Linked DNA regions of Homo sapiens. The protein of the gene in region 3 purifies or fractionates together with the protein of the main gene of each other region. This does not show direct contact. Each region holds a gene or a part of one and is shown on either strand. Other genes may lie near its edges.

Region 1 (3,500 bases), on a different chromosome or scaffold from region 3:
ACCAGGACGACAAGAATCACAGGGCCTGTCAAAAGAATGAAAAAGGAATAGAAAATTACAGAGAACACGAGCCAGAAACAAAGCCTGTGGTAAACTGAAATGAGGCAGAGATACCAGCAGGTTTTACTAGGAGCAATAAGTTTCTTTTGCATAAATTGTTTAAACTTTCAATCCACCAGAAGTACCTTTTCTCTAATCTCTTCTCAGATTTAATTATTTGAAGATATATCTGTTAAAAGATAAAAGCTACGTGGAAGAGTTAAGTACTCGGTAAAAAATTTTTAAAAATAAAAGGTAAAAGCTGAGTCTATGTATTTGTTATTATAACTAATGATGTAATTTAGACATGAGTGATCAAGATTTTTTTTCATCTTCTCAATGCACCTACTACCTATAGCCGACCATTTTTTTAGGAGTCATAACTTTAAAGTGCACTTGAAAAATTAATATTCTCTAATTAGAAAGGCAGTTTTTGTTTCTTGTTTAGGAAAAGCCTTTCCTATTGTGAGAAATTCCATTTTGTTAAGCACAGCAAAATATCAGCCAGCACCCGTAAGGGAAAAATCCCTAAAACTCTAGTGTACTATTTTACTATGTCTCACTACCAATCATTAAATAAGTATATATAAACACAATGTTAAAACTGTTTAAATCTGCTAGTTTTCTAGGCATTTTCACTGAGGATTTCTGAAAGTGAATCAACACTGCAGTAAAACCAGGTTTGTTCTCACCATAGCTCCAAAAACCCTTTTTATTAATCTGTCTCATGGTGTCCTGTGCATTCTCTTTAATTTCTTCCAATTTTTGTGTTTGTTGTGGATGACTTCCAGCCTCTGGAGAGGAAAAGAATCAATATTATTTTTAGGCAGTACACTAATGACAGTATGTATACCTTTATATCTCTCACCAAACCAAAGAATGATTTGACTAAAAGGCTTTCTATACCTTGGCCAGGTACGGTGGCTCATGCCTGTAATCCCAGCACTTTGGGAGGCTGAAACAGGTGGCTCACTTGGGGTCAGGAGTTTGAGACCAGCATGGCCAACAAGGTGAAACCCTGTCTCTACTAAAAATACAAAAATTATCGGGCATGATGGCGGGCGCCTGTAATCCCAGCTACGTGGGAGGCTGAGGCAGGAGAATCGCTTGAACCTGGGAGGTGGAGGTTGCAGTGAGCCGACATCGTGCCACTGCACTCCAGCCTGGGGGACAGAGCAAGACTCCATCTCAGAAAAAAAAAAAAAAAAAACCAAAGTTAACATTTTTCCTGTCTTTTCTTTAAGACTATTACTTTTATTCTACTTAGAAGGATAAAATGAAATACTGTGAAATTCATTCAAGGATAATGTTGCTATATTCACAATTCCTTACTGCCTCTTATATCAAAGACAAAGACATTTAAATAGTGCGGCCAAACTTACCTAAAATGTAATTCAGCAAAATGTATAAAATCAAGAAGGGATTTAAGAAATGTTGGCTGTACACAAGATTCAACTTCACAGGGTAATTGTGCTCTAATTCCAGTGTTCGAGTTTCACATGGTTCCTCAAGACCCCGAATATAAAAATAACAGAGGCACTAAGTTCTAAGATAGGAGAGATTAGTGTACAGTTGCAAAATAGCTTACAGAAGCAAATTTGAAACTCTTAGTGAAGGAGATATACAAAGCAAGGAATATAAGGTGAAGAAAATTCACGAAATATGTAAAAATCCAGATGTAGGGAGGGCATGCCAAGCTTAAAATATGTGGGTGAAAAGAAGGGCAACAATTTTTAGCACTCTAAGCTAAATCACACTAGAATCTAAATTTGTGCTTAACCCCAGCCAGGTACTTCTATTAGCATAGATGAGTAGGATCATCTTCACTTATAAAGGATTGTTCCTATCACCCCAAAGAGTAGGTTCTTAAAATATCATATCATAGAATCTAAGAACTGAAAGGATCTATAATGGACACCTACTCCGGCCCCATTACTTAACCTATCATGAAAAAAGGTCCAGGGATATTAAAGATCTTGCCCAAGGTCACATAAAGAGATGTAGCTGGCTGGGCGCAGTGGCTCACGCCTGTAATCCCAGCACTTTGGGAGGCCGAGGCGGGCGGATCACAAGGTCAGGAGATCGAGACCATCCTGGCTAATACGGTGAAATCCCGTCTCTACTAAAAATACAAAAAAAAAAAATTAGTTGGGCACGGTGGCGGGTGCCTGTAGTCCCAGCTACTCGGGAGGCTGAGGCAGGAGAATGGCGTGAATCCGGGAGGCGGAGCTTGCAGTGAGCCGAGACAGCGCCACTGCAGTCCGGCCTGGGCAAAAGAGTGAGACTCCATCTCAAAAAAACAAAAAAAAAGAGATATAGCTAAGTTGAGATGAAAACAAAGTTTCTCATCTCTTAGAGTATAGATAACCTCATTCAACTATATTAAATTGCTTTCCATACATAAACTGCATTTTTTTTTTTAAAGACAGGGTCTCACTCTGTCAACAAGGCTGGAGTGTAGTGCTGAAATTTCGGCTCACCACAGCTTCAACCTCCTGGGCTCAAGCAATCCTCCCACCTCAGCCTCCTGAGGACTATAGGTGCATGCAGCTGTTTTTGTGTTTTCTGTAGAGATGGGTTTTTGCCATGTTGCCCAGGCTGGTCTTCCTGGCCTCAAGTGATCCACCAGCCTTGGCCTCCCAAAGTGCTAGGATCACAGGAGTGAGCCACCACCCTTGGCCTAAACTAGATTTTTTTAAACAATATTTTTTCTACTCACAGTGAACCTGCCTAACAGTGAATTTTTTTTTAAGAGATGGGATCTCACTAGATTGCCCAGGCTAGCTAGAATGCAGTGGCTATTCACAGGGGTGATCATAGCACACTGCAGGCTTGAACTCCTGGGCTCAAGCAATCCTCCCAACTCAGCTTCCCAAGTAACTGGGACTAGAGGTGTAAGTAATTGCACCTAGTTTATAACAGTGAAATTCTGACGCAGGTCATGGTCCTTACAGATCACATTCATTCATTTGACAAAATTCATAAAGGTGTTTCTATGTGCCAGGTGCCAGAGATACACAATGAATGAGAGGACACAGTCCTTGCCTTCACTGAAGTTACAGATTATTCTAATGATTAATAAATAAAACATATATTTGAGATTAGTCATTGATTTGCAGTGAAACATGAATTACTAGCCCTTGCTGAAGTCCCTGATGAACAGAACATCTTATATTTTATATTCTTTTGCACTGGCAAATGGGCATTTCAGACTGAGCTCTTCAGAGTGCTTATAAAATACAAACCCACACAGACAATCACAGAAGGTGAAAGTTAGAAGAATGTTTGGATATCATCTTGTCCAACTTCTTCATTTTACAAACAGGAAATTGAAGCACCAGGAAGGGAAGATTTTCCCAAGGTCTCCCAAGTCAGCAAGTGGTAGGGCCACAACTAGAATTCACACCTCCAGTTCCAGTTAAGGATTTAGCACACTGCAACGCTTAGCTTCATAAGGGAAG
Region 2 (3,500 bases), on a different chromosome or scaffold from region 3:
TAGGGGGAAAACCTAGATCCTATGTTTTCCATATCAGTTTTGAAAATTATAAGAATTCATATAAACAGATTTCAAAATTATAAAGTTCTAAAACTCACATGGTTTCTATCTGAAAAATAACAAGTTTCCACTAAACTTTACAGAAGAGAATGTTTAATGGTATGTAACAAAAAGATTTTCCTAAAACTGGACACTTCTGCTTTGGACAGGTAATTTTCTTATTGTGCAAGTACAGGCTATTTGTGGCACAATAAATAAAATGCTTGATAAGTGCTGTTCCCCCAATTTATATATCATTTAGACTCTTTTGCAGAAACTTACTTCAGAATATTTTGAACATTCCAAATTATGAGAGCATTTTAAACTCCAATTTGAGATATAAAATTTCAGTATAATAATTTAAGTTTACTAACCAAGGGAAGAGGATGCACTCTGGGGAGGGACCAGTATCAAAAGACAGCTCCATTTTTACTGTCTAAATGCCTAGGTAGGATGCCGGCTTTCCTACGTAGGCAACAGCTCTATCTCATGCTCTCAAACTGCAACAGTAGTTAGTCATGGAAGGAAGCTGAAGAATTTAAAGGTGTGGGAGGACAAAGACATTCAAGTGTTATGCAGCAGACAGGAAGGACGTCAAGTTGAAAGAAGTGAACTGTGAACCTAGGGTGCCTGGAAAACCCAACATGGATGTTTAAAGTTGCTAAGAGCAATAGTGGGACAAGAAGCTGATTCTAAAATTTAAGTGAAGAAAGAAGAGATATTATTTGGGGGGAAAAAGTTAGATATAACAATTTTAATTTTAGAAAATCTTTCAAATAAATTTTCATAAAACAAATGGCAGAAAGTGAAGCTTAACAAATCTAAGCATTCCAAGCAGTTAAGAACTTTCTCTTCTTTAAATAAGAAAATAAAAATTAAAGAAAACACTGTATTTCCTCCAATTGTGCCAGAATCTTGGAGACAGCTAGAAAATCTTACGCTAATCAAAAAAGATTGTGGTTTTTCAAAGGTGCATAAAGGGTAAAGAGAAATCCCAAGACTAAACTTGTTTAGAAAAGACTATTTTGGGCCGGGTGCAGTGGCTCAAGCCTGTAATCCCAGCACTTTGGGAGGCTGAGGCAGGTGGATCACCTGAGATCAGGAGTTCAAGACCAGCCTGGTCAACATGGCAAAACCCCGTCTCTACTAAAAACACACAAAAAAATTAGCTGGGCAGGGTGGCATGCACCTGTAATCCCAGCTACTCAGGAGGCTGAGGCAGGAGAATCGCTTGAACTGGGGGGGCAGAGGTTGTGGTGAGCTGAGATTGCACCACTGCACTCCAGCCTGGGCGACAGAACAAGACTCCATCTCAAAAAAAAAAACAAAACTATTTTGAAGGTAAATATAGAAGGCAGCTTTGAGAAGGGTGGTATGAGCTTTCAAGGAAAAGTGTTGAAAGATAATGATAAAACAAAGGTGTGGGATATTCAGAGGAGAGTTAGAAGATGTCAAACTCCACCGTAACATAGGTGGCAATAAAGAAAAAACAACCAGGACGTGGGGGTGAGGGGGAGATTAGAAATCCAGTTTTTAGCAACAGCTTCCATGTTACTGATGTGAATATAAATTCTAAGACTATGCAAACCTCTTCCACATTTATTATACAGAACATAAGGCAAATAAAATTGTGTTTACTACTTAATTGCTCCTATAATTTAAGAAGCATGTACACGCCTACTATGTACCCACAAAAATTAAAAATAAAAAAAATTTTAAGGCCAGGCACAGTGGCTCACGCCTGTAATCCTAGCACTTTGGGAGGCTGAGGCCAGCGGATCGCTTGAGGTAGGAGTTCAAGACCAGCCTGGCCAACATGGTGAAACCCCATCTCTACCAAAAATACAAAAATTAGCTGAGCTGGTGGTGAGTGCCTGTAATCCCAGCTACTCAGGAGGCTAAGGCAGGAGAATCACTTGAACCCGGGAGGTGGAGGTTGCAGTGAGCCGAGATCATGCCACTGCACTCTAGCCTGGGCGACAGAGTGAGACTCCTTCTCAAAAAAAAAAAAAATTTAATAAAATAAAATGAAATCAGAACAGGGATGACTACATTTGACAAAAAATAAGTCATAAGAAATCCAGTGTTATTAAGAAAAAATAAAAATTCTAATGTGCCATAACAAAAAAAAAAAATAAAATGCATCTAAAACACATCTGCAAAAGGCATTAAAATAGCTGAAACACAAAACAAAAAATGTTTTCAATGACTGTTTTCTCAATTCTCCCAAGGATAGTACATAACTAGTACTTAGGTATTACACAGATATTTTCTCAAAAATGTATGAAGTAAACCTATCACTTCATAGAAAACAACTTATAGTATTTTTTGCCAATGATAAAAATTTGAGCTTTCAAGCAAACATTAAATTGTTTTTGGGTTTTTTTTTTTTTTTTTTTTTTTGACACGGAGTCTCACTCTGTCACCAGGCTGGAGTGCAGTGGGGCAATCTCAGCTCACTGCAACCTCTGCCTCCCGGGTTCAAGCGATTCCCCTGCCTCAGCCTCCCAAGTAGCTGGGACTACATGCGCGTGCCACCATACCCAGCTAATTTTTTGTATTTTTAGTAGAGACAGGGTTTCACCATGTTGGCCAGGATGATCTCAATTGTCTGACCTCGTGATCCGCCGGCCTCGGCCTCCCAAAGTGCTGGGATTACATGCTTGAGGCACCGCTCCCCGCCATTAAATTGTTTTAAAACTTGTGCCTGCTACCATAAGCTTGACAAGTTCCTAATATGTAAAGATTTTTCTGATGAGATCAGTGTTGGTATTAATGTAATTTGTTTGATAGTATATAACAAAATGTATTAACATTTAGAAGATATACATTACTCAGTGAAGCAATATCTTCCAAACCGTCAATTTGTGATATGAAAATATCACACATGGGTAGATGATCCATTCAAAGTGTAGAATAGGCCAATGAGTTTTAAGGTAACAAAGTACAAAAAGGTCACTCCTAAGCTTTCAGATTCCACACTGCAATTAACCTTTTAATTTATTAATTAATCCTTCATACAATTCAACCAAAACAATATATCACAATAAACTGCAGAAACAGATATGAAAACCCACCTGTCTTCTATTTAGCCTTTTTTTTTTCTCTTTGGATACTCAATAATGTTTAAGTTAGGGGTTCTGAAAACCACTGCCTTAGGACCATTAGGAAACCTCACTAAGAAAGGTTCCAGGAGTCTTAGCAGGAAGACATTCACACACAGACAATAGCCAGGTTTAACTTTCTACAACTGGTTAAAAGGCTGGATTGTATCTCTACATTCTTACTTCTTATTAAGACATACTAAATATCACCTGAGTGATATCTGGGCACAACTCTCTTCTCTTCTTCACATTTTTTCCTCTCAATCTCCCTGCTCTAAGATCAATTTGCTTGCTAAATCACATCTATTATACTTCTTACATTCCCACATTCCAGCAGTAGTTTGAAGAAAATCCCAC
Region 3 (3,500 bases):
CCCTAAAAACTCGTATGACCTGCTCATTCACTTTCTTCAGATCTCTGCTCAAAATCACCTTGACAGGACTCTTTCAACTTCCGTACTCTTTCAACTTCCTTACATAAAACAGTACTACTACCCACGCTCACTTGTCAGTCATTCTCTATCCCTTCTGCCCTTACCACCACCTGACATATTGTGTGCCTTTCATAATCTGTCTTACTCATGGACTGTAAGATCAACAAGAGCAGGATCTCTGCTTTACTTATTGCTGTATTCCTAGTACTTAAAACAGTACTTGTCATATACTAGAGGTACTCAAATATTTGTTGAATGAATGAAAGGACTGAAGAAGTGACAACCTTCTTCAGAGTGGGAGGCCACTTTTCCTGAGATTTAATCCTGGGGTAGGCCTGCTTGTGGCCCTGTCTACACATATCATCATTTGCTGCTGTGACTTATAAAAGGAAATATTGTCCTTCTATTGATTTCTATCACAAAAAGGTTGGATTTCTTTCCCTACTTGGCTTCATATTTTTTTCTAAAAGCCATCTTATAATTACAAGTTCACAAAGACCTGCAAAGAAGTCTTTTTTTTTTTAATATATATACAGATTTTACAGATCCACAATTGCAGATGGTGCAGTCTGTTTAGGAAACACATCACTATAGACAGAATAGGGAAAAACAGACCCCACAGTACACAGCTTATCTCCAGGCGCATCAACTCAGTGGAAATCAACTTTCAGGGAGGAGGAATGGGAAAAAAAGAATATAGTTTAGACTTACGTGGTAAGAAGGAGGAAGGAAGCAAGAGAAGTTAAATGTTAACATGAAGGTACTTTCCTTATTGGAAGTTTAACTAACTCCTATTTTTTTTTAATAAAAAAGTAAGAACATAATAACCACATAGAATATATATATATATATTTCTTACCTCTCCCAATGAGAAATAGTGACGTGGAATTTGAGAATCAGGATATATATTCTCTAGGTACCAGGAAAAAGGTTTGCATTGTAGTTTGTGTCTTAGACCAACTCTTGACGATATATCTCCATAATCTACCTTTGTAACACCTGTTGAAAGAAATAATTGACTCTGAATTATTAGTGTTGTTTTAGGTAACACATGTTTATATATTGAATCTAATAAGCCAGATGAATCAGAACAGTGGTATCAGCTGGGTGATATGTGACTATACAAGTGGAGACACCATGAATCCACCAAAAGTATAAAGCAAGGAAAATACATTAAAATGTGTTTTAATTTTTCAGAGAAAAATGACATTTATGTGAGAATGAAATATAAGTGATATGGGATCAGTAAACTTCAATATATGTTAAGGCACAAACAAAAAAATCAAGGTCTATTTTGCTCAAATATTAAACAGAGCAATTGTTTGCAGTCAGGCTTCTCTCACACAACTCACTGAACTGTGCACCCTGCCACTTGACAGTCTTGCAGTAACTAAAAAATAAGGATGGACTAGTAACAATGTCAGGCCGACTTATAGCTGATGGAACAACTGTTCCTACAAAACTCTGAATAGCAAAGTTTCCGGAAAGAAGGCCCTGTGGCACGTTTTGGGCTCTCAGTGGCCTTGTGATACTTGACGAAAGCCTCCTATGACAGCATTGAGGGCCTGCTTATAGAGAACGTTCATGACCCACTGCAAAAACAGTGGTTTTGTTATGTTGAATGAAAACTCCAAGAATCAAGAAAAAGTCATATAAGCTAGAAAAATGGCTGAAAATTTAACAAGATGAAACTTCACAGGAATAAATACTAAATGTTGCAGTTAGGTTTTAAAAAAAATAGAACATCTGCAAAACCTGGGCTAGCAACACTGACCTGGATAATTTATTACTGTTAATTATATATTATTCTAGGCATTCTGCCAAGCACTTTCTATACTGTGTGTGATTTCATTCATTCCTTACAATGACCTTATGAGGCAGGTGTTCACCTCTGCTCAAAGCTTCACTTCTAACCTTCTTACTTCTCCTCCAGGATCAGGGTCAACAAAGGTACAGCCTTGTATTTCTAATGCAAAACAACGCTAACCTGGAGAAATTATATAGAAGAAATTCTTGAATTCATCCATCCACACTTCTGCAAGTCGTCTGTTATTTTTATTGATAATCTGCCCTGTGCCTCCTGGAAACGTGTAAGGTGTAGCTTTCCGAAACACATGTCCAACATGTGAGCATGTAACAATTTCCAAAGTTCCTCCACACTGCCAAATCTGAAAACAGCAGAGATGACCATGTAACATGTAGCTGAGTAATCAGGAAATGTTCACCTTAGTTTTCCCATAGTATTTTTCTTTTCAATTAAATAGGGGTTTGGCTTTTGTTTAAACTTAAATGGAACATATTGTAGTTACTGGTAAAAAGCTTCCAAAGTACCTCCATACTACCAAATCTGAAAATAACAGCAAAGACCATATATGACATTGATAGTTTTTAAAAAAGTATTGACATCTATTGGGTTCCACAGTTGGAATTTCGCAAAATCAGGGGCACATGATGGGCTCCGGCTGTATGGTTAGGTTACAAAGCCAGTGCTTCCTCAAGAGAAACATTTCTCTAATTTGGGTTCTGATCAAACCAAAAGTTGAAGATTAAAATAAAGAAAACATAGGTTAAAGGCTAAATACAGAAAAGATATGGGATCTAGAGCAGTATTTTTCTAACTGCAGGCCATTATACCTAAGAGAATCATAAATTCAAATTGATGAATTGCAACCTGTACTTGTTAACAAGGACATACTGTTTCATAAAATGTTTAAATTTTATGTTTTGTGTGTGCAGAATGTATAATGTATTTATTAATGTGGCTCATGGTTAAAAACAACCACCAAACAAAACCTGACCATGGAGTAACCAGCCAGATGCTCATCTGTTCACCCCTCTCCAAACCTGCGTCACGGCTTGTACATGAAACAGAACCTAGGAATCTCAACTAGATCCATTGTAAGTTCTTCAGTGAGACAGTAAAAGCATGTTTTGTTGTCTTTGTTAGAACAATAAAAACAAAAAAAGGGGCAGAAGAAAGATGATCAAGTATGGGCTTACATCCTTAATTTAATGAAATCCTTCTGTTTCTTTCAAAATACATTCCCCCCACCAAGTTAAAAATCTCATAACTCTTTATAATTAAAATAACATTTTGGAAAGTTCTGATTTTGTTAAATATTCAGTGTTCCTACCTTCAAGTTTTCCCAGGATTATAAGTGTTAGAGCTGGATAGGATCTCCAAGGTGATATTGAGTCCAACCCTCTCTTTGACAAGAAGGCAAAGCGATTCACTGGGAACAAAGTGAGCTCGCTGGTTCAGATTACAGTACACGTCAGTGTGATTTCCACTATAATAAGCTATGTGTCTAAAGTTGGTTATTTGCAAAAATATGCAATGCCATTTAAACGATATGTTGATTCTAGTGAACATGAAATGCAAAGACTTTATATGTAGACTGGGTTAAATTAATTTAGAGTCATTTTAGAATTCTTTCGCA
Region 4 (3,500 bases), on a different chromosome or scaffold from region 3:
GGGTATGGTAAAAACAGATGATCTTTAAACTGTGTCCTAAGGACAGTGTATTCAGTGGACTCCCGGGCTTTTGATGGACAGAGTGAGGAAGTGTCTTTGGTTTGCTTCTCCAGAGCCACTCTCTACCTTGTTTGGGGCCCTGGGAACTGACCTCTGTGGAATGTAATGGGCTCCATGCTGCTGGCTTTCAGAGAGGTACACCCAACAGGAAGCATAAATGGGGGACTGAAGGAAAGAGGAAAGATAGTTGAAGTTTATCCCCTGTGAGGTCTCCTGGGTTGACTGGGTCCCTGTACTGATGGCCCACAGCCCCTATCCCTATAGCTGCCCACTTCCCTTGCTCCTTCAGCCCTGAGTGGTAACTGCTCCCAGCCACTGCTAGTCCCTCGGTGCTGCACTATCCCGTGTTGATTTGTCACACGCCTAATGCCTGAGCCAGTCACTCTGGGTTGATGTACCCTCTCTGGCTGTGCCCAGGCAAGGAGACCAAGCACTGCCACTGATGGCCCCTTTTGTAGTCTTCCTCTGTCCAGTCCTCAGAGCCTCCTCTGGTCTTAAAGAAGAGCAGTTTGAAGGGATGCCCATGATTACATGTGCAGGCCTCCTCTGTCCTCTGTCTCAGCCTGGGCCTGGTGGGGCAAGGGGAGCAGACTGGGAGACAGGGAGCGTGGACCAGCCAGTGAAGGAAGGGGCAGGAGGCAGGGGTCAGCTCCCCAGCAAGTGCATGCACCAACAGCTCTTGAGTGCTTAGTTTACGGTAGGCACTGTGCTCCACATACCAGTAATTTTATTTGCTTCTCAGGTAATCCCAGGAAGTCCTTCCTACAAATGCATTTTATAGGAGAAACAACTCGTGCTCAAAGAGATAAAATGATTCTTCCAGGGTCATCCTGCCAGTAAGTGACAAAGCCAGGATCAACATAAGTTTTCTGTCTTCTGTATGGTAGACACGTTGGACAGTGATACCTGGACTTGAGCAAGCCCTGAGAATGACCTTGTATGGCAGGCGCACCTCAATGCAGTTTGGTTCTAAGCTAAGGAATCTGGGAGTAGCCAACCCGGAGATCCACTCCTTATCTATGAGGAACATCTGAGCTCTTGGCCCATCCTATGGAACTTGCGGGCCAAACAGAGGATTGAGGTCTGTGGTTTGGGGTAAATGGAGGTTGCTAGGTGGAAGTTGTTGGGGGAGGTGCTAAGTGAAAATGCTATAGAAATTGCAAGCTTTTAGGCTGGGGGGCGGTAGCTCACAGCTATAATCCCAGCACTTTGGGAGGCTGAGGCAGGCGGATCACCTGAAGTCAGGAGTTTGAGACCAGCCTAACCAACATAGCGAAACTCCATCTCTACTAAAAATACAAAATTAGCTGCGTGTGGTGGCACTTGCCTGTAATCCCAGCTACTTGGGAGGCTGAGGCAGGAGAATCGCTTGAACCTGGGAGGCGGAGGCTGCAGTGAGTGAAGATCGCGCCATTGCACTCCAGCCTGGGCAATAAGAACGAAACTCTGTCTCAAAAAAAAAAACCAAAACCAAAACCAAAAACAAAAAAACTGCACACTTCCTGCGAGTGGTTGTGGTTCTTCGGTCCAGCCAGCAGCCACTGGACTCTCTCCCCTGTGTGTGAGCCCGTAGTAAAACCCCATGGCTCATTCGCTGGCTCTGGGTCTCCTCTTTGGCCTCTTGAGCCTGGTGCCATCCTCACTGGCACTGATAGGGGTTTAGCTCAACACCTAGTAACTACCTTGAAATAATTTTAGTGAACTGGCTCACAATCACAGCAGAGTTGGATGACTTAAGTGGGGTCAATTATCGGTGAGGATTTGCACAGAGGCCTCCAATGTTCCCTGGACACCCTCCCCTAGATTAAAAAAAAAAATCCTCTGACATTCTTCAGTTCTCCCAGGTGGGACAGGGGCCCCAAGCAGGTGGTGCAGTTGGGTGTCCGGGTTGGAAAAACAAGCAGATTCAGACAAGGCTTCATTGTTAAGGAGAGTCTGACACTTTGACCATTAAAGCAAAACTGAGCAAAACAAAATGCTTACTGCCTTGTCTTATCTCTTAGAGAGAAAGGGGACAGTGGGAAGGGCCCCCGGGCTGGGTGTTGATCCCACCCTAACCAGCGCCAGTCTCAGAGACCTGGCCTCAGGTGGCTGGGGCAGGGAGTTCAGGGTCTCAGTCCAGCCCGGCGTCAGGTATGGGGTGGGTGCTTGCCATGTGTGGCCTCGTCTGGCCTCTGTGGCCCTTTCAGAGAGATCGTTATTGTCATTTTTCAGATGAGGAAACTGAGGCTCCGAGAAGACACGCAGGGAGCAGCTGCATGCTGGAACCCAGGTTAACTGGATTACCAAGTCTTCCCACTCCCCTCATCTCTCCAGGCAGGAAGGTCCTGGGGGGAGGAAGCAGCCTCGGAAGGAATGAGCTCCTTGTCCTGGGGATGTGCAAGTATTGTCTTGGGACACTGTGGGAGGTAGGCTGCAGAGGGCAGCCAGGTGGCTCTCAAACTGAAATCACCAGGGGAGCTTCATCAACTACTGATGCCTGGGTCATGCCCCAGAGATTGTGGGGCCTGCAGGACTTTTAAAAGTTTCCCAGATGATTCTAATGTGAAACAAAGTTTGAAAGCCATGGGCTTGGATGCCCACTGCTGCCCTTCCCACCTCTGAAACTCTCCTGCCACACGCCTTTCTAAGGAAAGAAGGGATTTATTACCCTGACCCCATTTTACAAAATGGGCAGAAGCCAAGCAAAATATAAGGGTGTCCTCAAGGCCCCACAGCCAGCAACAAATCGAGGCAGCATGAGGGGTCCCCTGATTTCAGACTGCCCCTGGGGTGAGCTTCTTTAAGACACTTGGGGGTTCCAGCTCCCTTGTCAGTGGGAGAGAAGTTTCTCTTTGAGCCTCCTGGGTGAGAGAGTGAGACATTCTTCGTGGCATTTTTTTTAAAGAGTCCACTCGTTCAAAAGCTAAACAGCTGCAGGATTAACGCTGGAAGACCCCCTCTGCTTGCTGGTGTGCCTTGGGAGCAAGAAGATAAAAGAACTCAAAGCAGGCCTGTTTATCCTTTTCTGCAGGAGATTTGGTCACAAGCCTGGGAAGAGCTGAGCCTGTCAGACCAGCAGCCCACACTTCCTCCCCACCTGCCTTTCCGCCTTCCTCATGCCCTGAAAGCAGAATGTCACAGATGGAGAGATGGTGTGGGTTGGTGGGAAGTGAGAGGCCTGTGGAGTCCACTGGTCCTGGGGTCTGCCCAAGCTCTCCTCCTTGCCAGCTACCTTTGGAGAGGAGCTACTCCTCTCTCAGCTCATTCAGTGCTGATCTCACAGAGGTCCAAAGTCAGCAACATGGGCACCACCTCCAGGAAGGCTTCCCTGACTCCCCTCCCCACCCAGCGCCGGGCAACCCCAGGCCCCTGGCCTTCCCTGTCACATTCTGTGTTGTCACTGCTTCTGTGTCCTCCCAACCCTACCAGGCTGTTCATTCATTCATTCCACGGAGCAG

The links.
Region 1: the proteins of GALNT1 (region 3) and TOR1AIP2 purify together in Homo sapiens (co-immunoprecipitation; one large-scale study listed by IntAct). This does not show direct contact.
Region 2: the proteins of GALNT1 (region 3) and SEC23A purify together in Homo sapiens (pull-down; one study listed by IntAct). This does not show direct contact.
Region 4: the proteins of GALNT1 (region 3) and GDPD5 purify together in Homo sapiens (co-immunoprecipitation; one large-scale study listed by IntAct). This does not show direct contact.

The regions. Positions count from the first base shown.
Region 1 is NC_000001.11:179,846,804-179,850,303, forward strand, and holds part of TOR1AIP2 (torsin-1A-interacting protein 2), read right to left. Parts: intron 2,072-3,500; exon of another isoform or gene 1,422-2,071; intron 834-1,421; coding exon 732-833; intron 26-731; coding exon 1-25. UniProt on the Homo sapiens protein: Required for endoplasmic reticulum integrity. Regulates the distribution of TOR1A between the endoplasmic reticulum and the nuclear envelope as well as induces TOR1A, TOR1B and TOR3A ATPase activity.
Region 2 is NC_000014.9:39,096,736-39,100,235, forward strand, and holds part of SEC23A (protein transport protein Sec23A), read right to left. Parts: intron 1-3,500.
Region 3 is NC_000018.10:35,689,740-35,693,239, reverse strand, and holds part of GALNT1 (polypeptide N-acetylgalactosaminyltransferase 1), read right to left. Parts: intron 3,165-3,500; exon of another isoform or gene 2,229-3,164; coding exon 2,048-2,228; exon of another isoform or gene 1,994-2,047; intron 1,060-1,993; coding exon 920-1,059; intron 1-919. UniProt on the Homo sapiens protein: Catalyzes the initial reaction in O-linked oligosaccharide biosynthesis, the transfer of an N-acetyl-D-galactosamine residue to a serine or threonine residue on the protein receptor.
Region 4 is NC_000011.10:75,515,942-75,519,441, forward strand, and holds part of GDPD5 (glycerophosphodiester phosphodiesterase domain-containing protein 5), read right to left. Parts: exon of another isoform or gene 3,074-3,500; intron 2,333-3,073; exon of another isoform or gene 2,275-2,332; intron 1,486-2,274; exon of another isoform or gene 1-1,485. UniProt on the Homo sapiens protein: Glycerophosphodiester phosphodiesterase that promotes neurite formation and drives spinal motor neuron differentiation.